Linked DNA regions of Homo sapiens. The protein of the gene in region 3 purifies or fractionates together with the protein of the main gene of each other region. This does not show direct contact. Each region holds a gene or a part of one and is shown on either strand. Other genes may lie near its edges.

Evidence for each region.
Region 1: the proteins of ARID4B (region 3) and SUDS3 purify together in Homo sapiens (affinity purification with western blotting; 3 studies listed by BioGRID, with this or other methods). This does not show direct contact.
Region 2: the proteins of ARID4B (region 3) and SAP130 fractionate together in Homo sapiens (co-fractionation; 4 studies listed by BioGRID, with this or other methods). This does not show direct contact.
Region 4: the proteins of ARID4B (region 3) and ING1 purify together in Homo sapiens (affinity purification with mass spectrometry; 2 studies listed by BioGRID and IntAct, with this or other methods). This does not show direct contact.

Annotation. Positions count from the first base shown.
Region 1 is NC_000012.12:118,371,548-118,379,584, reverse strand, and holds the start of SUDS3 (sin3 histone deacetylase corepressor complex component SDS3), read right to left. Parts: upstream 3,031-8,037; 5' UTR 2,894-3,030; coding exon 2,752-2,893; intron 1-2,751.
Region 2 is NC_000002.12:128,010,991-128,018,073, forward strand, and holds part of SAP130 (histone deacetylase complex subunit SAP130), read right to left. Parts: intron 6,926-7,083; coding exon 6,690-6,925; intron 5,558-6,689; coding exon 5,399-5,557; intron 3,925-5,398; coding exon 3,813-3,924; intron 2,165-3,812; coding exon 2,040-2,164; intron 1-2,039. UniProt on the Homo sapiens protein: Acts as a transcriptional repressor. May function in the assembly and/or enzymatic activity of the mSin3A corepressor complex or in mediating interactions between the complex and other regulatory complexes.
Region 3 is NC_000001.11:235,318,116-235,325,198, forward strand, and holds part of ARID4B (AT-rich interactive domain-containing protein 4B), read right to left. Parts: intron 1-7,083. UniProt on the Homo sapiens protein: Acts as a transcriptional repressor. May function in the assembly and/or enzymatic activity of the Sin3A corepressor complex or in mediating interactions between the complex and other regulatory complexes.
Region 4 is NC_000013.11:110,709,101-110,716,773, reverse strand, and holds the start of ING1 (inhibitor of growth protein 1), read right to left. Parts: upstream 3,075-7,673; 5' UTR 2,625-3,074; coding exon 2,489-2,624; intron 1,763-2,488; exon of another isoform or gene 1,331-1,762; coding exon of another isoform or gene 766-1,330; intron 1-765. UniProt on the Homo sapiens protein: Cooperates with p53/TP53 in the negative regulatory pathway of cell growth by modulating p53-dependent transcriptional activation. Implicated as a tumor suppressor gene.

The DNA.
Region 1 (8,037 bases), on a different chromosome or scaffold from region 3:
ATACACGGTTGTCCCTCAGTATCCGTGGGGGAGTGGTTACTGCACCTCCCGTGGATACCAAAATCCTCAGCTGCTCAAGTCTCTGACAAAATGGCATAGTATTTGCATATAACCTACGCACATCTTCCAGTATACTTTTCTTTTTAATGAGACACAGTCTCACTCTGTCGCCCAGGCTGGAGTGCAGTGGCACAATCTCGGCTCACTGCAACCTCCACCTCCTGGGTTCAAGCGATTCTCCTGCCTCAGCTTCCCAAATAGCTGGGATTACAGGGGTGCACCACCACACCCGGCTACTTTTTGTATTTTTAGTAGAGATGAGGTTTCGCCACGTTGGCCAGGCTGGTCTCGAACTCCTGGCCTCAAGTGAACCACCTGCTTTCGCATTCCAAAGTGCTGGGATTACAGGCATGAGCCACTGCACCAGGCCAACAGTACACTTTAAATCATCTCTAGATTACTTAGAATATCCAGGCCAGGCATGGCAGCTCATGTCTGTAATCCCAGCACTTTGGAAGGCCAAAGCAGGAGAATCACCTGAGGACAGGAGTTCCAGACCAGCCTGGCCAACGTGGTGAAACCCCATCTCTACTAAAAACACAAAAATTAGGGCCAGGTGCAGTGGCTCACGCCTGTAATCCCAGCACTTTGGGAGGCAAAGGCAGGTGGATCACCTGAGGTCGGGAGTTCGAGACCAGCCTGACCAGCATGGAGAAACCACGTCTCTACTAAAAATACAAAATTAGCTGGGGGTGGCGGCACATGCCTGTAATCCCAGCTACTCAGGAGGCTGAGGCAGGAGAATTGCTTGAACTCGGGAGGCAGAGGTTGTGGTGAGCCGAGATCGCGCCATTGCACTCCACCCTGGGCAACAAGAGTGAAACTCCATCTCAAAAAAAAATAAAATAAACAAAACAACAAATAAAACCACAAAAATTAGCCAGGCATGGTGGCAGGTGCCAGTAATCCCAACTACTCCGGAGACTGAGGCAGGAGAACTGCTTGAACCCAGGAGATGGAAGTTGCAGTGAGCTGAGATCGTGACACTGCACACCAGCCTGGGTGAGTGAGTGAGACCCCATCTTAAAAAAAAAAAAAAAAAGATTACTTACAATATCCAATAAAATGTAAATACTATGTAAGTAGTTGTTACGCTACACTGTTTAGGAATAACAAAAAAAAAGTCTGCACATGTTCAGTACAGATCCAATTTTTTTCCTGAATATTTTTGAGCTGCGCTTGGTTGAATTCACAGATGCAGAACCCACAGATACGCAGAGCCAACTGTATACAATAAAAAAGGGGAATCTGACACAAATAAATATTTTCCAAGTTACAACTAAAGGGAACAAGGAGGAGGCCAGATGATCAAACGAAAACTGTTTCAGAACATCTTAAACATTGTTCTTAGAACAAGCTAATGGCTGGGGTGTGTACAAAATTTTAATAGCCCCTATACTGGAAGGAAAAAAAAACTCAATTTTGGCTCCACAGCGCCCCCTCGTGGGTATGAGATGAAGTGCAAGTGCTTCACATTCAAAATCTCTGGTTAAGCCGTGTCTTCTGATGGAATTAAATCGAATGCAGTCCCTCAACTTTGTATGTCATGCATATGCAGCTGTCTTTTGTAAGGCTGTTGCAGATCCAATTCCCCACAAACCCTTCTCCCCTCCTTCAGTCAAGAGGCCTTCCCTGAGTTCCTGTCATGGTCAGCCACATTACTTGGCACTCGGGAAACTCAGATGAATAAAACGTAGGCCCCATTCCAAACAGCTGGTCTAGCTTTTGCTCCACGGCCCGATTTTGTCCCAGAATATTCCGCTCATATATCGGTCTCTCTTTGTTTCCTATTTCTCCTCCCTTGATCTCTCACATTTCATCACCTTCCTCCTCCTCCATCCCTCCAAAATAGCGTTCCTCACACTTGCCAAATTATAAAGCCCAGTTTGAAAAGCAAGGCTCTGAGACTCTGTGATGACAGTGCAAAGAGCGTGGGACTGAAAACACAACACCTGGGGACCATTAAGCAAATCTCTCCCTCTCTTACCTGTTTCCGGGAGGGGGGCGGGTGGGGAGAACATTTACGGAGTATTTACAGTACCAGGCCAAGTACTTTATGCGCATGTCATTTAATCCCTATACCGACCCTAGGAAGTGCCTTCTAGGGCAGGTGTGGGAATTAAACAGCTCCATTACAGTTGGGTAAATCGAGGCTGGAAAACTTAAGTTTACAAAGCTGAGTTAAGTGACAAAGCCAAATTTAAACCTGTATCTGGCTGGTTCTAGGTCCCTTTCCTTTAACCAACCTGAGTTCTCAATAGTGTACTACCTAAAGTATAGATGACTTATGCATTTCGGGGGTGGGGAGGGGCAACTTTGGACTCTGATGCTCTCACACACAAAAAAGGGGCGAACTACACTCGATGTATTCAGTAAATGAGTTTCTAATTCCTACTAGTGAGTGAGGTTCAATCAGAAACGGCTGGGAGGGAGGACGGGGTCTTAAAGGGACCCCCAGCGTGACAACATCTAAGTCCCCTCTCCCCATCACGGTCGAGTGTAACGCACCCAGGGCTTCCCCGCTACTCCAGCACGGATGGGGGTAACTTCCCCGAGCCCCGCAACTCCCGGCGGCCCCTCCACGCAGCCCCAGGCCCCGGAGGCCGCCCCGCCCCTCTCCCGAACAGCCCCACCCCCTCCCCCAGCGGTCCCACCTCCGCTCCGGGCGGCCGGGCGAGCGGCAGGACTCACCTTCGTCCGACTCGCGGCCCCGACAGCTGCGCTCGTCGTCCTCGGCGCTCTCCAGCTCTTCATCCTCCTCGGGGTAGTACTCGGGGGCCGGCGGCGCTCCAGCCTGGGCCGGGGCCGGGGCCAGCAGCCCCGCGGCACTCATGTCGCCTCTGACCGCAGCTGAGCGTGGCCCACGGACACCGCGGCCACCCGCGCTCGGTACTCGCCGTCTGCCTAGCAGTGTCCGCGGCAGCCCCCAACTCGAGGACCGGCAGCCACGGCGACCCCTTCCCCGTCTCCGCCGAGCTCCGCCCCCCGCGCCCGCGCTCGGCAACGGGGGCCTCGCGCCGCGAGCGACTTCCGGGTCGAGAGCTGCCCGACAACGGCCTGATTCCGCCATCCTTGGGGGAGTGGAGATGCCGCTGGACGCCCCCGTCGCCACAACCTCAGCCCTTTCATCGCCGTCTTAAAATCCTCAACGTATAGTGGGGGAGGGGCGGAGCCAGGTTCGCTAGAGTCAGGCAAATCTACGGGCAGGCCCAGCAGCGGTCAGGACCCCGAGGCTCGCAGGCGACTTCCGGAGACAGCCGCCAGGCGGCGCCTGGAGCTAGAACTAAAGCGGTGATCGTTAGCGACCTAGGGGCGGAGGGTTTGAAGGGCCCTTGGCAGGTGGAGGTGGTCTCTAATTTAAGCAGGGAACGACGCGACCTGCCCCCTTATTAGGTCGGAAAACCTAGACGTCCAGAGTGTGCGTGATCATGCAGCCTGGCTCCTCCTGTGACTAGTTAGAGCTTTATTAAGAGCTAAAAGACAAGGATGCTGATATTCCATCCTGGGGACAGCAAAATAGTATTTTCCCAGCCCTTAGGAATCCTTTCTGTTTGTGTAAGGTTTATTCGGTAAGATGTTCCCCCGGTTTTACAAATGAGAAACGAGCTGTCGTTTGCCTAAAAAAAAATAGTAACGTCCAGTCTGATTTTTTAGACTCCGAGACCCAGGCCCTCCGCGGTACAGCTGCCTTGAATATTAATTTTTTAAAAGGTGCTTTTGCTTAATCCAACAGCTTGCTCTGAGCTCTCAACTGAAGAAGGGGAGAATTTGCCTACCAGAAGTTATTTGGCTAAGGCCCACGTGGAAGCTTAAAAAACAGGAGAGCTGAGTATCTGCAAGAATTAATTTGTGCGATTCCCTCTGAGTAGAAAAGGAACACGGTGTTATAAGTTTTGCTGAACGAATAGATTTAAGGTGTCCCTTTAGCTAAGAGCAATGTGGTCTAGTTGTGTGTAGCGAGAAAAAAGGGTAAGGTTTTTAATGGTTTGTCCAAAGTAGCCCCACTTTTATGTTCCACCCGAGTCTCCGTAGGAAACGCAACCAGTAGTGAAAATGAACAGATGTGAAAACCAGGGTGGAACCGAATATTCCCATTCTCAGACCTTTTGTGATTAAATTTATCTCTGAATTGTTCCCTATGGACTCTTCTGAAAATGAAACGTTATTCTCATCCCACTTATTTTGACATTTATTTACTACCTTGTTTTAATTAAAATCTTGGCTCTATTTGTAAGTGATTTTTTCTCCCAACAAAACTAAAGAATTTCCAGAATGGAATGCTAAGATGTCTTTCCAGGAGTTCTGAGATCTTCTGAAGCCCCTTCTAAATAAGAATCATTCTCAGATCGCACCGTAGGTCTGCCATCTATATTTAAACTAGGATTCCAGAACTGTCTCTTGTCCAAAAGATGAAGTCATTTTCTTTCTTTGTGCTGTTGGAGAACATCTAAATTACTTGCAATCAACTATATTGAGTAACTTGCGTTCCTGTCAGTAGCAGTAATCATAGTGCAGAAAAAGCAAAGATTTTAGAAATCAAGAGTTCATTGATACAATTAATTTTTAAGTTTATTTCGTTGCTAAATGGTTTCCTTTCAAGACGCTGAGATTTTTATCCTGCTTATGTTTTACTGCTGTCTTCTTGACTGCAAACAGCATCTGTTAATGGTCATGCATTTCTTTTTTATATGTAATGAATAGACACAACTGAGCACTTGGGTTATGAAAACTTACCCCATTTTTTTCTGTCCAGATTGCCAGCTGCAGAACTAAAAAATGCTCTTTAGTGAAGGTGGACCTACTCAAAAAAATTCTCTTATGGCTTTAGTCTTACCTAACCTTTAGATTTATTTAATATGATTTTGGACAGTCGCTATACTCCTGTAAAAATCAAGTTCCCTCAAAACCAAGTTTTACCACCTTGAAATCTTTTTATATATCCCTTCTCAAAACGGTACTCAGCCACACCGCTCAGGAACTCGACTTGACTTGAAACGAAGCCCTGCCAGCCCCATTTCCACAACTTCTTTGCTTCCAGGCCTTCTCTGCCTACCCTAACACCCAAACTGAAACTTTAAAGGGGGACATCACAATTGGAATGGAGTATGATTCTTTTTTTTCTTTTTCTTTTTTTCTTTTTTTGAGACGGAGTTTTGCTCTTTCACCCAGGCTGGAGTGAAGTGATGCGATCTCGACTCACTGCAACCTCCGCCTCCGGGTTCAAGTGATTCTCCTGCCTCAGCCTTTCTAGTAGCTGGGATTACAGGTGGGTGCCACCATGCCCGGCTAATTTTTGTATTTTTCGTACAGACGGGATTTCACCATGTTGGCCAGGCAGGTCTGGAACCCTTGACCTCAGGTGATGAATGGCGTATGATTCTTAAAACACTAGAAGAAACATGTATACTGTTTAGAACACAAACACATTTTGTCAGCTGGAGTTAAAAAGTTAACAATCGAGGGTTCTCTGAGAACTAAGGCCTGTATACATCTGACAAAACTTAGGATCAAAATGTGTTCCTGAGACAATTTCTTCATAAAATGCTAAATTCTAAAGTCCATAAACTTACTTTTGGCGTTAAGAGTAAGGAAAGCAGTTTTCTGTTTCCGGTGTTGATTTGATCAGCATATCCAGTTTCACAAAAATAACACAAATGGGTCTTAGTAGCATGATGCACTTTCACCCCTGGCAGGCACTATCCTTTAGCGTGGATCAAGAGGAGTCTCTGATTATCACATGTTAAACCTGGGTCAAAGCTCGTTATCCTTTGGCCACACGTTCACATAGAATCATTAAAACCTGTGGCCCTGGAAAAAGGTTATATTGAATAGCTTTGCTGAAACCTTGTTAAGCTAATAATAGGGTTCCCCTACCACAGTCTTCCTACTGTCATAAAAACCTACAAACTGAAAATTTCTAAAGCTTTGTCCTTGCACCTATCAAAATGTGCCCCGCATTGAACGCTTAGTTGGGCAAAGTATGCACCTAGTACTGTATATAGATTTTTTTTCCCCCAACGGTATCAAACTGACGGCTGCTGAACTCAATTCAAGGAGAGGCAACTCCCTTGCAAGAGATTTTAAAAAGAAATGGTTTAAATCCAGGAAATTTTTACAAATCCTGGGCAAATTAATGCTATATTAGTTCATGGCAGAATTACTAAGAAAGCTGTGCAAGGTCTAGCGAGAGACTGGGGTCCTCCCCAAAGGCTCTAACATGGTGGTCCCTGGGAATCTCCCAAGAAAAGTAAAGGCGTGGGGAGAAGCGCCATGAACTTTGACCGGAGAGCAGCACAAACAAGACTGACCGCACCCCAGGCGGGCCCGTAGGTTACTAAAGTTGCAAGGTCTTCCGCGTCTGAGGAGACCCCGCCCTGCCCTGTCCCGCCCATCGACAACTCCGCCAATCCTCGGGTTCCATCGACCGCTCGGCTTCCCAGGCTCCATCAATCAAATACCTATATACGGCCCCGGCCCTGTGCCCCGCGATCAGGGAAGGTCAGTAGAGAGCCTATTGGAGCCGAGCTTGGGGCGTGGTCCGGGGCAGGGGGCGGGCGGACTGAGACGGTGGGGCGGGGCGTGCTCGGCGCAGTCCGGTGCGATTGGCCACCCCTGGCAGGAGCCGCACCTCGGACAGCAGCAGCGGCGGCGGCCGCGGGAGGGTCCTTGTGGCGCCGGGCGGCGGGGTCCTGCGTGGAGAGTGGGACGCAACGCCGAGACCGCGAGCAGAGGCTGCGCACAGCCGGATCCGGCACTCAGCGACCGGACCCAAGGATCCGCCGGGGAACAAGCCACAGGAGAGCGACTCAGGAACAAGTGTGGGAGAGGAAGCGGCGGCGGCGGCGCCGGGCCCGGGGGTGGTGACAGCAGGTCTGAGGTGAGAGCACCGGGGCGCGGGGCATGACAGTGGGAGCCGAGGCGGCGGGACCCCAGGCAGAGTGAGGGGAGTTGCGGGAGCGGGCTCGACAGTGCAGACTGTGGAGAGGAGACCCCGGGAGGGACCGGGACAGCGGGTGAGGAGAGGGGACTCCGAGAGGGACCGAGGCAGTGGCTCTGAGTGGAGAGGACTCCGAGAGGGTCCAAGACTGAAAGTCTGAGGGGAGGGGTCTCCAAGAGGGGCCGGGACAGTGCGCGTGAGAGGAAGGGACCCGGAGAGGGGCTGGGGTAGTGGGGTGAGGGGTGGGTGCCTCATGAGGCACTAGGATAGGGGGATGAGGGGAGGGGGTCCCCTGAAGGACCAGGTCCCAGAAAAGGTCAGGGACAGCGGGGAGAGGGGAAGGGTCCCCGAGAGGGGCCGGCACTGAGAGTCTGAGAGATGGGGACCCCGAGAGGGGCTGGGACAGCACCCGGGGAGAGGAGACCCCGAGGTGAGGGGAGGGGACCCAGAGAGAATCCAGGACAGAGTAAAGAGAGGGGACCGGTCAGGGGATGTGAAGACAGGGGATCCCCAGAGGGCTTAGAACAGAGTGTGAGAAGACCCCAGGAAGGGCCAAGACAGTGGGAGAAGAGGAGGGGTCCCGGAAGGGGGCTGGGCTGAGACAGCGGGGCTGAGAGCAGGACACCTAGAGAGAGGCCGGGACAGCGGGTGGGAGCAGGGTGACCCCGAGAGGGGCCAGGACAGCGGGGTGAGAGGAGGGGACCCCCAGAGGGCTCGGGACAGCGCATGCGAGCGTGGGACTCCGAGAGGGGCTTTGAGCGTCGGGTGCAGGCGCGGACCCCGAGGGAGGAGCGGTGCCCCATGGGTGCGGGTCGGGCCCCCAGTCACATAGCGGGGGCCCGGCGTGAGCAGCGAGGGAGCGGGCGGGGGGTCGCGCCCGCTGAGTTGCGGGAGCCCCCCCAAGAACGGCTGCGGCGGGGAGCCTGGGTCGCAGTCGCGGCGTCGGGCAAATAGGAACCGGCTGCAGCGCAGACGAGTGGAGCGGGGAGGTGCTCCCAGGGTCTGGCATCAGCGACCTCCCTGAGGGTGGAGTGTGAGCC
Region 2 (7,083 bases), on a different chromosome or scaffold from region 3:
GAGTCCCTCCTGTACAAATGTGATTGGAGTCAAAATTCTGCCCTACTATTGGTACCAATGGGATCTCACCCTTCAATCTAGAGTTGCCACAGGTCTGTTGTTGGTCCTGGTGTAGACATTTTACGCTGCCATCCAACCCAGCACCTCCACAGAGGGCCTACTCAGCTGCTGAATAGAGCTGTTGGCTCTCAGGCCATCTACGTTAGTGAGTACAAGGGCAACTCAAGGTAACAGTATTCTTTTCTAGGTAATCGTTCAGGGTGCCCATATCCTTTCTGGATGTTTTCACATGGACAGAGTGCCCTTATCACACTTACGTGTGAAATCTTCCTCTAAAAAATAAGCTCCACACTGGGCTTCATCCACATACCCACCATTATTCTTCGAATCACCTGAGTTCTGATTCTTCCCTTGCTCTTAACCCTGAAACATGCATCTAAATGGCCGAGCTCTGCCCATTCCTCATCCTTGCTTTTCATCTACAGCCCTTTTACCTGCCGCTTCTACCATGTGCAGGTGCGTGTCTCACACTAGGGCTACAGCACCAGCTTCCTCACTCGGGAGCTCCTTGTCTTGGTTCTCGTCTTCCTCCAACCCTTCATATGTATCACATATACTACTAGAGGCCTAATACTCCTCCGACTCTGTTTTCTTGGCCAGAAAAGTATTTATCTTGAAAGCTGTAGGCTAGACAGATACTACCCAGTATCATAATCAAGACTTCCTTATTATCTTAAACCCAGTTGTTTCATACATCTGTCTGTCCCCTGAAAGTGCTTAAGGGGACAGACCTCCTGTATGTGATTCAGCTAGATTAATCTTATCTTTCTTATTTTTTGTGAGATGGAGTCTCACTCTCTCGTCCCAGCTAGAGTGCAGTGGCACGATCTTGGCTCACTGCAACCTCTGCCTCTCGGACTCAAGTGATTCTCCCACCTCAGCCTCCCAGGTAGCTGGGATTACAGGCACGCACCACCATGCCCAGCTAATTTTTTGGCATTTTAGTAGAGACAGGGTTTCACCATGTTGCCCAAGGCGGTTTCAAACTCCTGATCTCAGACAATCCGCCCGCCTTGGCCTCCCAAAATGCTGGGAATTACAGGTGTGAGCCACTGCGCCTGGCCTAATCTCATCTTTCAACAGTATTACTTTAATGATACACAGAGCCATTGTGTTAAAAAGACAAAAATGATTTTTGGCCGGGCACAGTAGCTCACGCCTGTAATCCTAGCACTTCAGGAGGCCGAGGCAGGCAGATCACTTGAGGTCAGGAGTTCGAGACCAGCCTGGCCAACAGGGTGAAATCCTGTCTCTACTAAAAGTATAAAAATTAGCCGGGCATGGTGGTGCACACCTGTAGTCCCAAGTACTTGGAAGGCTGAGGCAGGAGAATCGCTTGAACCCAGGAAGCAGAGGTTGCAGTGAGCTGGGATCGCACCACTGCACTTCAGCCTGGGCAACAGAGTGAGACTGTCTCAAAAAACAAAAACAAATAAACAAAAAAACGCAGTGGCTCTCTACTGTATATAAAGTCTAGTTTATACTCCATATCCTAGAGAACCCAATTTATAGATACTATATTTCCTGCAAATATATTATACTTCAGTAATAATGAGGTCATAGATTTCCTTAAGAAAAAGCTGAATGGCATGGACCATGTTCTTGGAATATACATAGATATACACCTAACTTTTAGGAGTCCACAGATCCCCCCAATCCAAATTAAAATCCCTCAATCCTAGCTAGCCTTTACTAACTGCTGTCTACAACCATCACTCCCTTCCTTGCCACTGTTCATTTCCCCCTTCACTTCCTCTTCACTTCTCTGATTCCTCGTTAGCACAGCCTTTCCAACAGGAAGGCTTCCCACCATCTCTCCTCTGCATTCTTACAGCTTGCCACATGACACTGTGCATCTTTCAAACTTCCCTATGTCTTGGCAACTAGATGGAAAGTCCCTGAGGTCAAGGATGTGCCTAGTGCCTGGCAGAATGAATAACTCCAATGAGGCCCTTAATGCACCCCAGGCTCCGACGTGCCTGGATTGGTTGGTGAATGATGTGCTGTACTGCTGGCTGAGCAGTAGCAGCATTTGGCAGCTGTGAGGTCGGCCTCAGGACTGTGGTTACTTTAGAACTGGACATCACAGCAGCAGCAGCTGCACCTGAAAAAAAAAAAGTGTTTATTATATTTATTCTAGTTATATTCCCTGGGAAAATAATCAGTATGTTTCCCAAAACTCAGATAGCATGTCAATATCGAGCTGAAGTATGGTATGTATACTTCCCATTTCATCACAGAGAAAACAAAGAAAATGTGTATTCAAGAGATTTAATAATAATTTATATTGCCTCTTCACAGACAACCTTAAGTGAAACTAGCTGCTGTTTTTTGTTTCTGTTAACTGCAAGTGTGCACAGTGGTAAAGCACACAGGGAACAGCAGTGTGATGCCACTGCCTCAGCTCTGACGAGGCTCGGACACTTTGCCTTCCAGTCTTTGTTCCATTAGAGCAGACGTCGACATTGCCAAAGGGACACATTATGAACCTTAACCTTAAACCTAACCCTGCACTTTTCACCCTGCAGACCCCCATAAGGGCCTGTGAACCACATTTGGAGAACTGCTGAGTTATGCTATAACCAAGCAAACCTGGTCTTGCGTTTGCTAACTTGATTTTGCCAACAATCTCCAATTGTTGTAAAGTCTCCAATAAAAGGTAAAAATTTCTAGTCAAAATTCATTTATTACCTCACAACCTATTAGAACTTAAGGGTAAAAATAAATTAATCTTAGCCATGTGGTGGCTCACACCTGTAGTCCCAGCCACTCAGGAGGCTAAAGTGGGAAGATCGCTTGTGCCCCAGAAATCTGAAACCAGCCTGGGTAACCCAGTGAGGCCCCATCTCAAAAAATAATTATCATCATCATTTTATTGTTACATAAGTTAAAAAACTGAGTAAAGATCATCACTGAACTTTAAAAATATTCAGTATTAATATTTGTGACTTATGTATTAAAAATAAAGACCATGTTGCAGATAAGCAGTCTAATAATAAAGACCATGTTGAGATTATCAAAGCTTGGGCAGTTCCTCAATATATAGGACAATTTTAGACCATATTAAACACTTTAATTGCATAAATATACACACTTGTAATACAACTATAATAAGCACATATTAAACCATGCTAAAAACATGGATTGCTCTAAGTTTATTTCTACTGTCTTGCGATTTTTTTTCTTTTTCTTGAGACAGGTTCTCGCTCTGTCACCCAGGCTGGAGTGCAGCGGCGCAATCTCAACTCATTTCAACCTCTGCCTCCCGAGCTCAAGCCATCCTCCCATCTCAGCCTCCTGAGTGCCATCCTCCCATCTCAGCCTCCTGAGTGCCATCCTCCTATCTCAGCCTCCTGAGTGCCATCCTCCCATCTCAGCCTCCTGAGTGCCATCCTCCCATCTCAGCCTCCTGAGTAGATGGGACTACAGACGCATGCCACCACACCTGGCTAATTTTTTGTATTTTTGTAGAGACAGGGTTTCGCCATGTTGCCCAGGCTGGTCTCAAATTCCTGGACTCAAGTGAACCTACCACCTCAGCCTCCCAAAGTGTTGGGTTTATAGACATGAACCGCAGCACCTGGCCTTTTTTTCTTTTTAAATAAAAGAGGTTTATTTGGTTCACGGTTCTGCAGACTGTTGTTCTGCAACTTTAACAAGCTGATTCTAGATACATTCTGTGTTACGTATTTTACCAAATGTATATCTACTACTACATTTTGAGAGTTTGAACAAAACTTGCAAGTCGTTACCTCGAGGTAAATGAGAAGCTCCAATGTGAAGAGGGGGCCCAGGAGCATTGCTGCGGATGATAGACATTTGCACATTTGTAGTCATGATGTGATGCAGGTTACTGGGATGGCCCTGAAAGAAAGAGGATAGAACGTTATTTTTACATGTTTGCTCTTAGCCATTGCCTCTAGGAAGTCACCTGCCTCCAAATGTGGGTCAGGTTGTTTTTTAGATAGTGAGTATCCCAAGAGAAAGGGCTAAGGACATTCAGCTTGAGCTACTTTTACATGCCATACCGTACAATGAACTGTGCTAACAGGCATGTGAGAAGTATGAGGACCCCACAACTGCTGCAGGCCCACATAATTACAGATAATATACTTCGATATCTACGTTTAGAAACTCTCATCTGCGATATTACCTTTCACACTTGTTTTCCCTGTTCTGGCCAAATGCTTATTTTTTTTCCCATTCTCACTATTTCCTTTACATACCACTGCATCCATCCATTCTTTAAGCTTTTTTGTTTCTAAGTAAATGTCAGTTGGTATCCAACAGGTGCTCCCTACCAGTTCTTCAGCTCAACCCTGAAATGTCCCTTACATTCTCCCAAACCACAGAGTTCAGGGCTTCTCAGCTAAGGGTTCTGGTACTTCTGAGAGTACTCAGCAGTATGACAAAAGGAAAAAACACAGTACACCTCTTTGGGATATAAATTTTTCTTGAAAATGTGAAGGGAAAGTTTTTAGATTTAGTTTTTTTCCCCAGGTAAAAAATGTAAAATATTTAATTAATCAGGTACACAGCAGAGTAGGATTGCAAAATTTCACAAAAAAACCTTAAAACAGAAGACTTCAGAATAAATGTTCGCAACTAAGGCTGGGTGCGGTGGCTCATGCCTGTAATCCCAGCACTTTGGGAGGCCGAGGCGGGCAGATCATTTGAGGTCAGGAGTTGGAGACCAGCCTGGCCAACATGGTGAAACCCCGTCTCTATTAAAATAAAAAAATTAGCTGGGGGTGGTGGTGCCCGCTTGTAATCCTAGCTACTCGGGAGGCTGAGGCAAGAGAATGGCTCGAACACGGGACGTGGACGTTGCTGTGAGCCAAGACTGCACCACTACACTCCAGCTTGGGTGACACCGTGAGATTCTGTCTCAAAAAAAAAAAAAAAAAAGTTTGGAACTAGAGAGCTGCTTGAGGTAACCTATCCCAAGAGATGCACATCTGCTCTCCTCAGAGAAACCACAGAGCAGCACTGCCTACCCCCGGAAGGCAGTTCTTGACGCTAAAACCAAACACGAACCGGACTCCGGACTCCTCAAGGACACGGACTGTTTTATCTAGATTTATATATCACACTAGGGTCGAATCGAGCATCTAGTAGCTGCTCAATAAATTCTAGCTAAATGACCACTATGGACACTGGCTTCTACTCCCTTTACAGTTATCCTTCTCTCTCAAACCTACTATCTTCACTTGCAGGTATCAGTGACTGTTTGATCTTTTTTTATTACCGTGACTAATGTACTGCTAGCATTCAATAAATCATGATCAACAGTTTGGCATTTCAGTTTGAAAATCAGCAAATTAAAAGGAAGAAAAACCTGTTGTCCACTGATTGTTGCCACAGGAATGGCTGAAGCTTGAGGGATGCTACTCTCCATGGTAACGGTAACCTGCCCTGGAACCTTGGGGGGAAGTGACAGGGTAGAAGGTGGAGCAGGAGCAATGGGACGGCTAGGCATGGTGGGCTTCGGGGGCGGCTGCAAACAGAAAACCACACAAAACATATCAATGGCCTCATACTGGTGATGCATTTCAATCCACAATTAAGAGTGCACAAATCGAACCTGGAAAGTGCCAGGAAAGATGCCGTAAGCTTTATACATTTTATCTATTATCATCACAGTGTTTCCACTGAAGTACTAGCATTTCTATTTCACAGATAAAGAAACATACAAAGCAAGGCTAACTGACTTGCTCAAAGCCACACACACAGTAAGAAGTAGAACTGGGAATAAAGCCCAGAGCTGTATGGCTCACAGCCCACACCCTTTCTTCTACATGATGCTGCCTCCCAAGTTTGGGTGGATTGAACAAAACTCCCAGTAACTGAAACACAACCCCAAGGTAATACACAGGCAATATTCTCAGAAACCCCCAAATTAACCAGTTATTAAAACAAACCTTAAAGAAGAGTGCCACTCCACTTGGTCCCATGGTACTGGGTTATCTGAACTTATAACATTACTGTCAGCTGGGCACAGTGGCTCACGCCTGTAATCCCAGCAATCTGGGAAGCTAAGGCGGGCAGACCACTTGAGGCCAGGAGTTTGAGACCAGCCTGGCCGACATGGTGAAACGCCATCTCTACTAAAAATACAAAAATTAGCCAGGCGTAGTGACGTGCGCCTGTAATACCAGCTACTTGGGAGGCTGAGGCTGCAGAACCGCTTGAACCTTGGAGGTGGAAGTTGCAGTGAGCCAAGATCGCACCACTGCACTCCAGCCTGGATGACAGAGAAAGACTCCGTCTCAAATAAAAACAGAAACAAAACATTAATGTCATTAAGCCCCCACTGCTAAATCTGACTGGCTTAAAAAAAAAAGAGGGTCCCTTCAAGATTGTATCTAACTTAACATGCCCATAAGTTGAATAATATCAGTATCAAAATGGATAACAGCAAAGATCCTATGATGCCAACTGCCCAGCAGCACAAGACAAGGCACTGCAGAAAATCAGGGCTGAGTTACAGAAAGGAGCTGAACTCATATGTCATAAAGAAAAAATGAAATGTGATCCTAAGATACAGCCTAAGATTTTATACAAATTGTTACAAACATTAGCCAGTCTCGAGCTCTGGTTCAGTGTGAAGTTTTAACCCTCTCCATTACCTTCATAAGTCCCTCCGAAAATGAAAGTGGCACTGCTGGCGTCAGGTGTGCTGGCGGGGCTGTCACTGCAACAGGTGTGGCTGATGCGACAGCATGGTGTGTCGACAACATCTGCACCTGTGGATAGGGCCTTACCACAACAGGCTCTTGCTTCTCCTCCCGGGACTGGAGGGAGCTGCTGGAACTCATGTGCTCCCTGGCACTGACTTCAGAATCTCGACCAGATTCATCATTGACTAGTAAAGACATTAAGAGTGAGACAGTATGTCACAGTCTCCCAGTGTAAGATAGCAGCACAGACAAGAGTGGTACCTGAAGTTAAATCTCAGGATTGACAAAGTGGCCATTTCCTTGTGATGTTTTCTTAACAAGGTCAATATGGGCACTGGATTCT
Region 3 (7,083 bases):
ATGGACTATTATTCAGCAATAAAAAAGAGCATAGTATTAACACTTGCTACTCCTTTTTTTTTTTTTTTTTTTTTTTTTTGAGACGGAGTCTTGATCTGACACCTAGGCTGGAGTGCAGTGGCGCCATCGCAGCTCACTGCAACCTTTGCCTCCCAGGTTCAAGCAATTCTCTGCCTCAGCCTCCTGAGTAGCTGGGATTACAGGCGCCCACCACCACACCCGGCTAATTTTTTTATTTAGTACAGATGGGGTTTCACCATCTTGGCCAGGCTGGTCTTGAACTCCTGACATCGTGATCCACCCACATCGGCTTCCCAAAGTGCTGGGATTACAGGCGTGAGCCATCGCGCCTGGTCAACACTTGCTACTTCTTTCACTTATGGGAAGTAAAAGAAATCAGACACAAAAAGGCCACATATGTATTACAGGATTCCGTTAACAGAAAATGCCCAGAATACGCAAATCCTTATAGACAGAAAGTAAATGCTAAGCTCAGTGTCTGAATCTTGTAATCCCAGCACTTTGGGGGCCAATGCAAGAGGATCACTTGAGCTCAGGAGTTCCAGACCAGGCTAGGGAACATAGTGAGACTTCACTACTACAAAAAATTCCAAAATTTGCTGGGCATGGTGGCGCACACCTGTAATCCCATCTACTTGGGAGCTGGAGGCAGGAAGATCGCTTGAACCCAGGAGGTCGATGCTGCAGTGAGCCATGGTCGAGCCACTGCACTCCAGCCTGGGTGACAGAATCAAAACTCTTCTCAAAAAAAAAATTTAGATTAGTTACTGGAGGGATAAAAGAAAGGGAGAACAGTGAATGACTGCTAATGGATAAGAAGTTTCTTGTTGGGAATTTGGAAATGTTCTGGAGTTAAATAGCAGTGACAGATAGCTAGGGATAAGTAACGTGCCTGAAGTCTCAGCTACTCAGGAAGTTGAGGGGGAAAGATCACTTGACCACAAGAGTTCAAGGCCAGCCTAGGTAACACAGCAAGACCTCATCTCTAAAAAAACAAACAAAAGAAATTAACAAAAAAGTTTTCAAAAGATAGTAGTGATGGATGCACAAACTTGTGAAAATACTAGAAATTTATGAACACTTTAAAAAGGTGAATTTGGTGAGGCGCGGTGGCTCATGCCTGTAATCCCAACACTTTGGTAGGCCAAGATGGGAGGATCATTTGAGCCCAGGAGTTCAAGACCAGCCTGGGCAACACAGTGAGACCTCCACAGAAAATTTAAAAGTTAGCTGGGCATGGTGCCGTGCACCTCTGGTCCCAGCTACCTGGGAGGTTGAAGCAGGATCACATGAGCCCACTGAAGATCAAGGCTGCAGTGAGCTGTGATTGCGCCACTACACTCCTGCCTGGGCAACAGACTGTGGCCATGTCTCAAAAAAAATAAAATAAAAGGGTGAATTTTATGGTATGTGAATTATATCTCATTTTTTTTAATTAAAAAAACAAGTGAAAGGATTGCTCAACTCAATGTTCACTGCTCACTGAGAAGGCTAAGATTTGACAATGCCTTCATGGTCATACTCAGTTCCAAGAATCCCATCTACCAACTAATCACAGCAAAAAGACTTTTTTAAAAAAAGGGAGGACGGCCAGGTGCAGTGGCTCACACTTTGGGAGGCCAAGGCGGGCGGATCACTTAAGGTCAGGAGTTCAGAACCATCCTGGCCAACATGGTGAAACCCCATTGCTACTAAAAACACAAAAAAAAAGGCCGGGCGAGGTGACTCACACCTGTAATCCCAGCACTCTGGGAGGCCGAGGCAGGTGGATAACAAGGTCAGGAGTTTGAGACCAGCCTGGCCAACATGGTGAAACCCCGTCTCTACTAAAAATACAAAAATTAGCCAGACATGGTGGCACATGCCTGTAGTCCCAGCTACTTGGGAGGCTGAGGCAGGAGAATCGCTTGAACCTGGGAGGCAGAGGTTGCAGTGAGCCGAGATCGTGCCATTGCACTCCAACCTGGGTAACGAGCGAAACTCCGTCTAAAAAAAAAAAAACAAAAAATACAAAAAAAATTAGCCAGGCGTGGTGGCAGGTGCCTGTAATCCCAGCTACAGGGGAGTCTGGGGCAAGAGAATTACTTAAACTCGGGAGACAGAGGCTGCAGTGAGCCGAGATCACATCACTGCACTCCAGCCTAGGCAACAGAGAGAGGCTCCGTCTCAAAAGAAAAGGAGGGAGGGCACTTGTGGGAGGACATACATGTGCAAGTTGCAGTAAGTAGAATTTTCCCTTCACACCCAATCCATTGAAATCCAATCATCCCCATCTTCAAATATATTCCCAATACTACTATTTCTCCTCACCACCATCTCTCCCCAGGACTAGCTTGACAGCCTTCTGACTGATCTCCCTACTTCCACTCTTGTGTTCCCATGATCTGTTCGAACCCATGATGTGTTCACTACCCAGCAGTCAAACATTTTTGAAAATGTTTATCACATCACTTCACTCAACACCCTTCAAAGGGTTCCTAACACATTCAGATTTTACTCAAGTCCTTACCATGTCCTATAAGGCCCTACAATTGTACTGGCCCTTTGTGACCCTCTCTGACCTCCTCTCCTACCACTCCAGCCCTGATGGCCTTAATGTTCCTTAAATGTATCACACTCAAACATGCCAAGCACACTCCATCTCAGGGTATTTGCACTTGTTTTCTGCAGGGAATGCTCCTCCCCCAGAAACCTGAATGGCTCACTCTATCACTTGTTTCACAGCACACTTAAATGTCATCTCGAAAAGGCCCTCCATTATCACCTAATCTAAAGTAACCCACCCTCTGTCACTCTAACCTCTTATTCTGATTCCGTATCATTTCTCTTCAAAGCACTTAGCATTATTTTTTTTCTTAACGTGTGTCCACCATAGTAGAAAGTAAACTCCACGAGGGTAAGAACTCTTGTTCTATTCACTGCTGCATCCTCAAAACCCAGAACAATGTCCGGTACAAGGAAAGTACACAATGTGTTCAATGACTGAATTCACTGGCTGACTTGGCAAAAACATTCTTCAGTGACATAGGTACTCACCTAGTATTTTTTTTAATTACAATAAACAAAGATTTAGCAATTTGGACAGAAAACATGTTAGTATTTTACAAGATTACCTATTCATCTAAAGGACCACAAATTTATAGCACAAAATTTGCCATGTTATGGATCTTAAATCCCTTCAAATATCATAGATATGAGGTTAACATTCACACCAGATTAACCAAGCCTCTGACTTCATCCTACCTACTTACTCTTACATCTTAACTAGCAGGTCCAATGACAGCATGCTTCAAATGACAGTAACATCTATCTAATTTCCTAAGAAAAAAACCTCCATCTTCTTCCTACCCCAGGATGAGTTACTAGGTCCTGAATTCTACTTCTTTTAAGACAGACTCTTGCTCTGTCGCCCAGGCTGGAGTGCAGTGGCGTGATCTCGGCTCACTGCAAGCTCCGCCTCCCAGGTTCGCACCATTCTCCTGCCTCAGCGTCCTACAGGCGCCCGCTACCAAGCCTGGCTAATTTCTATTTTTTGTATTTTTTTAGTAGAGACGGGGTTTCACTGTGTTAGCCAGGATGGTCTCAATCTCCTGACCTCATGATCCACCCACCTCAGCCTCCCAAAGTGCTGGGATTACAGGTGTGAGCCACTGTGCCCGGCCCTGAATTCTACTTCAAAAAGGCTCAGATCTATCCTCTCTGCTCCACTTCCAATGCATTAGTTCAGGCCCTTATTCATTTTCCACTTGGACTTCTTACCTGGAATTTCCATCCTTACATTCAGCTCTCCCCTTGTTTTTGCAGTGGCCTGATCTCAGCTCACCGCAACCTCCAGCTCCTGGGTTCAAGCAATTCTCAACAACTTTCAATGGTTCCATGTAGTTTTCAAGAAAAAATTTTTTTTTTTTTGAGACAGAGTATTGCTCTTGTCACCCAGGCTGGAGTGCAATGGCATGATCTCGGCTCACTGTAACCTCCACCTCCCGTGTTCAAGCTATTCTTCTGCCTCAGCCTCCCTAATAGCTGGCATTACAGGCTCACACCACCATGCCCTGCTAATTTTGTATTTTTAGTAGAAACAGGGTTTCACCATGTTGGCCAGGCTGGTATAGAACTCAGGTGATCCACCTGCCTCAACCTCCCAAAGTGCTGGGATTACAGGTGTGAGACACCATGCCTGGCCAAGAAAATTTTCGACTCCCTCACTCAGCTTCATCTCCCACCACTGCCCTTTTATTCCTACCCAAACATATCATGCTTTAAGTTAATTCAGTCACACCAAATTACTTACAGTTTCCAGATACTTCACCTTGTTTCGTTCATTTTCCAGTACGTTATCCTCTATCTGAAAAACTTTTCTTCCCTTCTTTGCCTAGCAAAAGCCTTCGCACTCAGCTTAGATGTCAACTCCACCAGAAAACTTTCCATAGCTCTCTGATTTAGCTGTCCTCTTCTGTCCTCTCATAGCATTTCCTACAATTATTTTATGTTGGAATACTCATAAATAGATATGCTAGGAGTTTTGCTTTATTTATCTGCATCTTCTGCTACACTGTGGGCTCCCTGAAAGCAGGTCAGATGCCTCACCCACCTTCATTCTATATTACCTGATATATGAAACGGGTTGTTGTTAAATGAATGACTTATGAAAGGGGTGAGACAGAAGGAAGAGGGGGAAGGAAAAGAACAGAGAGGGGGGAACGAACTGACAGAGTGGATAGGGAGACAAACAAAGGTAGAGGTAGGGGGAGAGAGAGAGAGAACATGTACACACACACAGGGCATTAAAAAAGGGAATTTGTAATCAATCCATTATTTTTTCATGTGGCCTAAGCCAATCATTGTTGAAGAAAGAAAAGTACATCTGGAAAATTCAATCTACGTGGATTCTAAATATAACCACCTTTTTTTTTTTTTTTTTCCTGAAATGGGGTCTCCCTGTCACCCAAGCTGGAGTGCAGTGGTGCCATCTCGACTCACTGCAACCTCCACCTCCTAGGTTCAAGCGATCCTACCTCAGTCTCCTGAGTAGCTGGGAATACAGGCATGCGCCACCATGCCCAGCTAATTTTTTTATACTTTTAGTAGAGACGGGGTTTTCATCACTTTGGCCAGGCTGGTCTTGAACTCCCAACCTCAAGTAATCCACCCACCTCAGCCTCCCAAAGTACTGGGATTACAAGCATGAGCCACCATGCCCGCCAAAGTATAATCATCTAAATCATTCCTCCTCTAAAGATTCTGGTATATCCAGCCCAACCAGCCCATTTTAATTGAAAATTTACTGCTACGTAATAAAAGACGTTAATAACATGTACAATATAGATACAGGAAAAAAAAGTTTGAGTTTAAAAAAAGTAAAAATCGGCCGGGCGCAGTGGCTCACGCCTGTAATCCCAGCACTTTGGGAGGCCGAGGCGGGCAGATCACCTGAGGTCAGGAGTTCGAGACCAGCCTGACCAATATGGAGAAACCTTGTCTCTACTAAAAGCACAAAATTAGCCCGGCATGATGGTGCATGCCTATAATTCCAGTTACTCAGGAGGCTGAGGCAGGAGAACTGCTTGAACCTGGGAGGCAGAGGTTGCAGTGAGCCGAGATCGCACCACTGCACTCCGGCCTGGGCAACAAGAGCAAAAGTCCGTCTTAAAAAAAAAAAGTAAAAATCAACCTGACATAATAAAAATAAGTCTTGGAATTATTTACAAACTTTAATAATCTACCACCTCCTTATAATGTGGTACTGCTGATTTTTATTTTATTTTATTTAGTTTTTTTTTTTTTGAGAGAGAGAGTTTCACTTTTTTCGCCGAGGCTGGAGTTCAGTGGCGCAACCTCAGCTCACTGCAACCTCCGCCTCCTGGGTTCAAGCAGTTCTCCTGCCTCAGCCTTCCGAATAGCTGGGATTACAGGTGTGTGCCACCATGCCCAGCTAATTTTGTATTTTTAGAAGAGACAGGGTTTTACTACGCTGGCCAGGCTGGTCTCAAACTCCCTTGACCTCAGGTGATCCTCCTACCTCGGCCTCCCAAAGTGCTGTGATTACAGGCGTGAGCCACCATGCCCAGCCGGCACCACTGATTTTTAAAAGTCTATCAAGAGCATGAAAAATAAATTCAACATAACACCAACATCACGATCTATGTTACAGCACAAATTCCTTATGTATTACGAATCATATTCCTCAAAAACATACTGTGAAAAAAGTAACATAGCATATATTAGACAGTAATGGGAATGTATTTGTTTACATAAATTCTTAAAGGTAGTACATGGGAAAACTGCTAAAACATACAACACTTCAACTTTAAAACAACACCTAAAAAGTATTACTACATAATCTAACTTTCAATCACCTCAATAAACTGTCACTTAATAAAATTTAAAGATTTGTTGTCGTTAATACAACAGACAATTCAAACTTAAAAGCTTGCTCCCAAGTACAAATATGTTTGGTAAGATCCAATAAATGGCATAAAACCTTCTGTAGCTCAATGATCATCGTAATACAGAAATTACACCAGGCACGGTGACTCTCGCCTGTAATCCCAGCACTTTGGGAGGCTAAGGCGGGAGAGTCACCTGAGCCCAGAAGTTCGACACCAGCCTGGGCAACACGGCAAAACCTCATCTCTACAAAAACTACAAAAATTAGCCAGGTGTGCCTGTAGTCCCAGCTACTCAGGAGGCTGAGGTGGGAGGATTATTTGAGCCCAGGAGGCAGCAGTTACAGATCGTGCCAGCCAGGGTGAAATAGTGAGACTCTATATCAAAAAGAAAAATAAAAAAGAACGAAAGAAATTGGGAACACACAGAAAAAGAAACAAAATTTAGGCCTAATACACTCAACATTAAATAGATTCTGAATTGCAATTTTTGCTAAAGCAAAATACAAATTACAAGAAGCTTCTCATCTTTTATCACATAAGAAATAAAGTTGTAAGAAATAAGCTAAGTTTTTAGTACTAATAATTACTAGCAAATTCTCTGAGATTTGCTATACTTATAATAACAGGAAGTACTTGTATGAAGTTAGAAATTTATTTTAGTAACTTTTTCCTT
Region 4 (7,673 bases), on a different chromosome or scaffold from region 3:
CCACACCAACATTACCATGGAAAGCAGCAGCACATGCAATTTACAGATTAAATGGGGTTGTAGCAACATTTAAATTGGTTTGTCCAATTATTTTAAATGTATTTTAATTTTACATACGGGTTGCACTGAAGTTCTTTATGAAGCGAACTTCCCAGGGGGTGGGTGGGTATTTTTATGATAATGTTTGAAAAATAATTCAAGCAACCTCAAACACCATTTTAAATCGACAAACTAATTATAATCCAAGTTTATGAATTAACATACAACTGATGCCTACTAAGCAAAAGACGTTTGACTTCCTACAGAGTAGGTCTGTGGAAGTCTTTCAGAACTACGCGGCAGAGCTCAGCATTTACACCGAAGTCCAAGGAGCTGTGACCCTTGCGACAGATTCGCTCGCTTCTCGGCGCTCCCAGCTGCGCCGCTCCAGTACTCCCGGGGGGGCAGGACTGTGATCTTTCCTGAAGCCAAAAAGTTCATCACCCTAGGTGAACATGAAGCAAGCAGCAAGCCAGGCTCTCCCCAGCAACGACAGGAGGACAAAGTGGCTCCATGAACTTTGCTGTCTGGACAGCTGGAACCCTGCACCCCGCCCCGCGCTACTTTTTTCTATCGTCGAACGATCAAAGTGGTCTCAGCCCCTGCCTTCCTTCCGTCCGGAGCCCCAGGGTCACCCCACGGGGCCCGTCCGGCCCGAGGACAGCACCTTCCAGAAAAGTTTCTGCGCCGAGGGTCCCCCTCGTGGACGCAGCCCCAGTCACTCACGTTTCCACGGCCACGCGCGGCCCCACCCTCGGGTCAGCAGAGATGCGGCCTGAAACTGTCTCCGAGCCGGCCCCGCGGGTCGCGGGAGGCGGTCCGAACTGCAGCCCCGGCCCCGAGCCCACAGGCCCGGGATCACTGCTACTGCTATAAATCCGCGCCCGAAAGTGGCCGGGCTGAGCGGGGAGAGGGGCCGGGGCGACACCCGCCAGGCCTCCAGCCAATGGGGAGGAGGCCAGCGGGAGACTCGCCCCGCACCCCGAGAGCCGCCGCCTATGGGAATCGCCGATTTGGAGGGCGGAGGCCAGGAGGAGAACCAACCACACCGCAGGGCGGAAGAGCACGGCCCGCCCCAGCAGCGAGAAGAACCAATCCAAGGCTGGAGGCCGAGCGACCCGAAGACGTTCAAATCAACTCGTCCACCCTCCACCCCGCTCCTCCCCGAAAAAGAAAAAAGAAGACAGCGGAAACACAGACCCATACCAGTTATTGCGCTAGGCCCGCCTTCATCCGCCTCAGCGACCAATCGTTCCGCAGGGGAATGATAAGGACATTCCACGAAGGACATCACAGCCAACTACTGGGGGGCTGAGGCGGGACGTTCCATAATATGCTAATGAAGTTCCTATAAAATTCGCTGCGAAGCTACGTCTCGGATAGAACGCGCAGGGGCGCCTTCCCGGCAGAGGCGTCTAGTACTTTCGGGGATAGCGGTCAATTTTTTTTTTTGCCCCCACCCAACTCTTCCGTTTCCCTACTGCGCAGCCTTGTAAACATTAGTAAACTCCGAGTGGTGATCCACATTCAAAACAGAGCCCCCAAAGCCTTGACTGACCTCGCAGGAAAGTTTCCCCAACAGCCAACAATTCCCGGCGGACACGAACTCGCCACCTCTCTCTGACACCCGGGGCGGCCAGGTCTGCAGAGAACGACGCACAGGTCCTCTCACCTGCCACAGTCCTCTCCAAGCCAGCGATCTGCCCGCGCCCCCCCGAGCGCAGCGCAGATGGGCGCCTTCCCCGCCTCCGCTCCTCCCCTTCCCTTCCCTTCCCTACGGCACACAGAGAAAAGCCCTCGTCCTCCGCAAACTACAACCGGCGGCGTCGCCCCTCGCAGTCGGCCCCTACTCGGTGTCCAGCTCCAAGTGAGGGCCGGAGGGGGCTGGGCGGGGGCGGCCGACCTACCCCGAGCGGAGTACTACCCGGTACTTTATGTAACACTCAGATTCGGGACTGAGTGGGGGGCGACGAAGAAGGGCCAGAGGAACGGCGTTGCCCGGGACCGAGGCACCGGGTCCGCGGGAACCCCGGCCCACAGCCGCCCTCCTCCTGCAGCCCCGTCTCGGCGCCCTATAGCCCCAGGCGCCGGCACATCCCTCCATCTCGCGCCGTAATCTGCACCCCCTCCTAGAGGACGCGGCTTGGACCCGCCGCCCCCTCCCCCGCAGCACCCGCCTCATCACTTCACTACAAAGAGCGCTTTGGTCGCGCAGCCTTGCAGCGAGACCTCTCGCGCCTCCTTCCTCCTCCGTGTCCCGGGCTTTGCACACAAGGACCTTGGCGAATCAAAGGCGCTCCAGACCTTTTGTTCCTGCCCCTGCCGAGGGCCGCCGCTGCGGAGCCGGCCGCTTCCTCCGGTCCACGGCAGGACCGGCCCGGCTCCGCGGCGCGCCCGGACCCGCCGGGAAGGAGGCGGCCGCCCCCGCCCATCCATCACCCGGCCGTACCTTGGTATTTCGCGTCGATCTCCCGCATCAGCGAGACATTTCTCTGCAAGTCGAAAGGCAGGGACTCGATGGAGTCCAGGTAGTCCTCCACATAGTTCACCAGGTGGAGCTGCTCCCCGTTGGCAGGACTCAACATGGTTCACCCCGGAGGTCCCCGGCGACTCGGCGCGGCTTTCCGCTTCCTCCACCCCCCGCCCCCCTCAAAAAATAGCACTGCAAAATGCAAAGCCCTCGCTCTCCCGGCGCCCCCCCGCCGGCTCCTGCTTCGGCCCGGCGGCTACATCTGCCGAGCCCGTCCGCCGCCTCCGGGTCCGCGGGGACCCCAGCGCCTGAGGGCGCGGGCCGCGGTGGCGGTGGCTCCCGGGCGCACGCCCCGGCCGGCGGCGCAGGCCCCCTCTCAGGCGGCGGGGCTGGCGCCGGGGGCCGCGCGTACGAGCGCGCACACACCGGCGGGAGAGGGCCCAGCGCCGCGGCCGCCGCTGCCCACTCGCCCACTGGGCTGGGTAGAAGAGAGGAGCGGAGCGGGCAGCGGGAAGGGGCGCGCTCCGCTGGCCGCCGAGCCGCACTTGTCCAACGTGGAAAACCCAAATACCAGTTTCAAACACTTGGGAAACATTCAGCCCCGCTGCGCAGCGCGCATGCGCCCCGGCCCCCTCCCCCGGCAACGGCCCCGCCCCCCGCCGCATTCACGCCCCTCACCGTCCCAGGCCCTGGGGGCTGCGGGCTCCAGGCCGGCCCTCGCGGGGGCGTGGCCTTGCCTGTCACTTTTTCCAGAGGCGAGGGTCGCGGAGGGGACAGCGTCAGGGCCGCTGGGGTGTGGACGGCGGGCGAGGCGCAAACTTTACTAGGAGTTTTTGGCACTTGGAGGCAGAGCCTGTTGGGCGGCACAGCACGCCCGCTGGGAAACGCAGGGGAGCGGCCTGCTTCGCTGAAAACCCGACCAGGACCTAACGGGCCGCGGGACAGAAACCTCCGAGACCATGGTACACAGCAACTACCGCAACTCGCTCCTCAGCCCCTGACTCTTCGTCCCCGCCCCACAGAGCAGTATAAGTAGGGCCCGAAACAGAACTGGCAACCGCAGTAGCCAATCTACTTGCCAACATCACTTTGACAGCCCAATCACGATGAAGAGGAGGCGGGGAGACCGTGAGTAATGCCCCCCGGACTCTTACTACTAGAAACCCAAGTCCTCCGGGAGGCGGAAGGAAGGGGAGGGCCGGGCACGGGCGGAAGTGGCGGCGCATGCGCACTGGCACCCTCTCGGTGTCCTTTGAGCTGCGGCCGCAGAGTGCGCGGGAGACCTACCCATTCCGCGGCCGGACCACCACTCCCAGCAGCCTAGGCGGCTCCCGCGCCTGCGCCATCCGTCACCGCCCTCCCTTTGTGTCGTCTCCCGGTACTCAGTTTGGAACGGCTTGGAGACAAAGGGGCCTGAGAGGGAAGCTGCTTCCTAGTGCCGAGCCCCAGAAGAGGTGGATAGGCCCGAGGGGCGCCTTCCCTAGGCCTTATCTCTTCCCGCCCTGTGTCATGGACACCGTTCTCGGAGGCCGCTCCCCACACTTGGAAAGGCCGCCCACAGTATGCAGACACCCGGTCGGCCGGCGTCCTGAGGCCATTCAGCTCCCCGGACCGCCCTCCCCCGCGTCGCCCCTCTACCCTCCCAAAGCTCCCGGATTTTGGGCTTTCTGAGAAGCCTGGACGCCACGCGAGCCCGTTGCCTAGGCGACCGGCCCCGCGCGCCGGCCCCCCCCCTTCCGGCCAAAGGGCCCGCCCCTCCTGGGCGTGGCCTCGTGCCTTTGTGCACTTCCCGCCTGGCTCTCTGGTTCCGGGGCGGCCTCGGCTTCGGCCTCCGCCCCGCTGCGGCCGCCGCGGGTCCCCTCCGGGGTGGCCCCGAGAGCTGTGTTCGCCACGCTTGGCTGCCTGCTTTTCTCTGATTTTCTTCCGCCTTGGACCCTGCTCTATTTGCATTGTCTTTTTTTCAGCAAGTCGGAGAACGGTGCCTTGTCAGTTTTCACCTTTCTCACTGGACTTTCTCTTTTCCGGAGAGCCGGGTTGGTGGTGCTGCCTGTGTATTCCACGAACTAAGCCCTGTCCCCAGCCCTTGCAGTGTTTCTGTATCAACTCCACGCCAGCGCGGTTCTCCATTTTTCTTAGCCTCTTAATTAGGACAGGGTCGGATTTCAGCTTTTATCCACCGGGTTTATCCTGTTGCAAAGCAGAGTACACAGTTTTAGACACAAAATAATTGCAGTTGAAATGGATACACATTCTGGTGGTAAGATTTGGAAACGTGGTATTTGATGGAACCCTGTTGTAACATCTAAAACTCTTTGGATTTTTTAAAAACGTATTCTGTGTAATCCAGTAAAAATTTGGATTCGTCCAGTATTTATAGAGTAGATTATTAACCGCAGTGGTGCTCATTCCAGGGCCCTGCCGGGTATTTTGTGCTATGGATGTGAGTACGGCAAAGAGACTGAATTAAGCTGTTTTGTATTTGGAATCGGATTGTTCACGTTGCAACGTTGCTGCAATGATAAATGGATGGATACTCTTTACACTTTGAAGTGGATTTAATCTTCACTTTTAAGCCCCTTCATCTCACCTACACAGCAGGAGAGCTTTGGCTTTGATATTTGGGGAAATGGCTGTTATTTTACTTACAGATCACGCTATTCTAGTCTTGGCCTAGTTAAAAGCAAATGAGTACTTTAGTTTCTACAAGATTTATTGGCCACTACTTGGTCTGCACAAAAGACTATAACACTTGGCCGGACGCGGTGGCTCACGCCTGTAATCCTACCACTTTGGGAGGCCGAGGCGGGCGAATTGCCTGAGATCAGGAGTTCGGGACCAGCTTGGGCAACATGGTGAAACCCTGTCTCTACTAAAAATACAAAAAATTAGCAGGGCATGGTGGCGCGTGCCTGTAGTCCCAGCTATTGGGGAGGCTGAGACAGAATCACTTGAACCTAGGAGGGGAGGTTGCAGTGAGCCGAGATTGTGCCACTGCACTCCAGCCTGGGCGACAGAGCAAGACTATCTCCGGAAAAAAAGAGAAAAAAAGACTACGACAAGATAACATTATGTGGAAACAAACATTATGTCGAATACAGAGTATAGAGGGAGTACAAAGTTGAATAAGGAAAATTACGCCTTTCCCTCAAAAAGCATATAAGTAATTTAAAAGTACAATAGTAAGAAATAGACCGGTTCTTCTATTCCTAGCATTCATTGGCTCTAGAATGAATAGTGTTTATCTGAACTCAAGAATAAAATTGGAAGTAATTTACCCTTTACAAAGATAAGATGGAGTTTAACCTAGGTTTTCTTTTTAAAAAAAAAAATCACAACACAGTACAATCTGAGTAATGATTTTGTTCCTCTAGTTATGTACTCTCTTCACATACACATAAACCAAAAAGGCATCTTAAGCATTCAACAAGGAATATTGACGAGTGTCTACCATGTGCCAACTACTGGTCCGTGCGCTGGGGATACAGTAGTGAAAAGTTTTTTGGAGCTTTACATTCCATAAAACTTTTAGCCCACCCCTTGGGATAAAAAGTCAAAAAAGATTTTATCTTTTTTGGAACAAACTTAGAAGATCAAGCAATAAAACATAATTACCTTTGATAACGAATTTTAAATGTCATTGAAGAAAGGTGCTTAATTTTGAAGATACGTTGAAGAATCTTGTCTCTTTCAGTTTTGTTTCCTGTGGCGTGTTGCAAAAATGGATGTTAAAACTTTTCCGTAGAACAGAAATTTCAAATGGATTAAAAAGAAACATTTAAAATTAAACTTTTTTCTAAAATTATATTTCCAGTCTAACTGAAAATGCTCAAACCTATGAGAGTCAGATATAAGAGATGAACATATAATTCTTTTTCTTTTTTTGAGACGGAGTCTTGCTCTTGTCACCCAGACTGGAGTGCAGTGGCGTGATCTCAGCTCACTGCAACCTCCGCCTCCCGGGTTCAAGCGATTCTCCTGCCTCAGCCTCCTGAGTAGCTGGGATTACGGGTGCCGGACGCCATGCCCAACTAATTTTTGTATTTTTAGTAGAGACGGAGTTTTGTCATGTTGGCCCAGGCTGGTCTCGAACTCCTGACCTCAGGTGATCCGCCTGTCTTGGCCTCCCAAAGTGCTGGGATTACAGGCGTGAACCACCGCGCCTGGCCAAGCATAGAATTGTTTAAGTTTCAAAGTGCTTAAAAAATAAATGCAAACTCATTCATCTTAAACTTGAAAACCCCTAAACCATATGCTACCGTAATCAACTCTACTTCTGATTTACAAGATTTTGCCTTGAAAGAAAATGTAATACTGAGAACTTGATTTTGTTATTGTTGTCATTAAGGACTGAGAAATGGCATTAGTGATATTTTGGAATCATTAACTTTAACACACTTCCTCGTTCTGACCTAGATTGGAGAGGGAGGTGACTTCAATTAAATGGATCCTCTTTTTATGTATATATGGTGTATTAGTCAGGGTTCTCTAGAGGGACAGAACTAATAGGATGGAGATATAGATATATATAATGTATATACATATATATGTTTATTAAGTACTAACTTACATAATCACAAGGTCCCACAATAGACTGTCCGCAAGCTGAGGAGCAAGGAGAGCCAGTCTGAGTCCCAAAACTGAAGAACTTGGAGTCTGATGTTCGAGGGCAGGAAGCACCCAGCACAGGAGAAAGATGTAGGCTGGGAGGTATAGTAATGAAGAGCATTAGCAGTCTATTTTACTTTACCTTAATATTCAACCTGCAGATATTCAATATGCAAAAAGATCACATTTCTAACCATCATTAGGTAATGAGCTATGTTTCTCCTTGTTTTGATGATCCGCAAAAGCCTTAAGAAAACAGAATTAGCTGCCGGGCACGGTGGCTCATGCCTGTAATCCCAGCACTTTCAGAGACCGAGGTGGGCGGATCACCTGGGGTCGGGAGTTCAAGACCAGCCTGACTAACATGGAGAAACCCCATCTGTACTAAAAATACAAAATTAGCTGGGCATGGTGGCACATGCCTGTAATCCCAGCTACTCAGGAGACAAGCAGGAGAATTGCTTGAACCCGGGAGACGTGAGAAAGAGGCAGGAGAATCGCTTGAACCCAGGAGATCACGCCATTGCACTCCAGCCTGGGCAACAAGAGTGAAACTCCA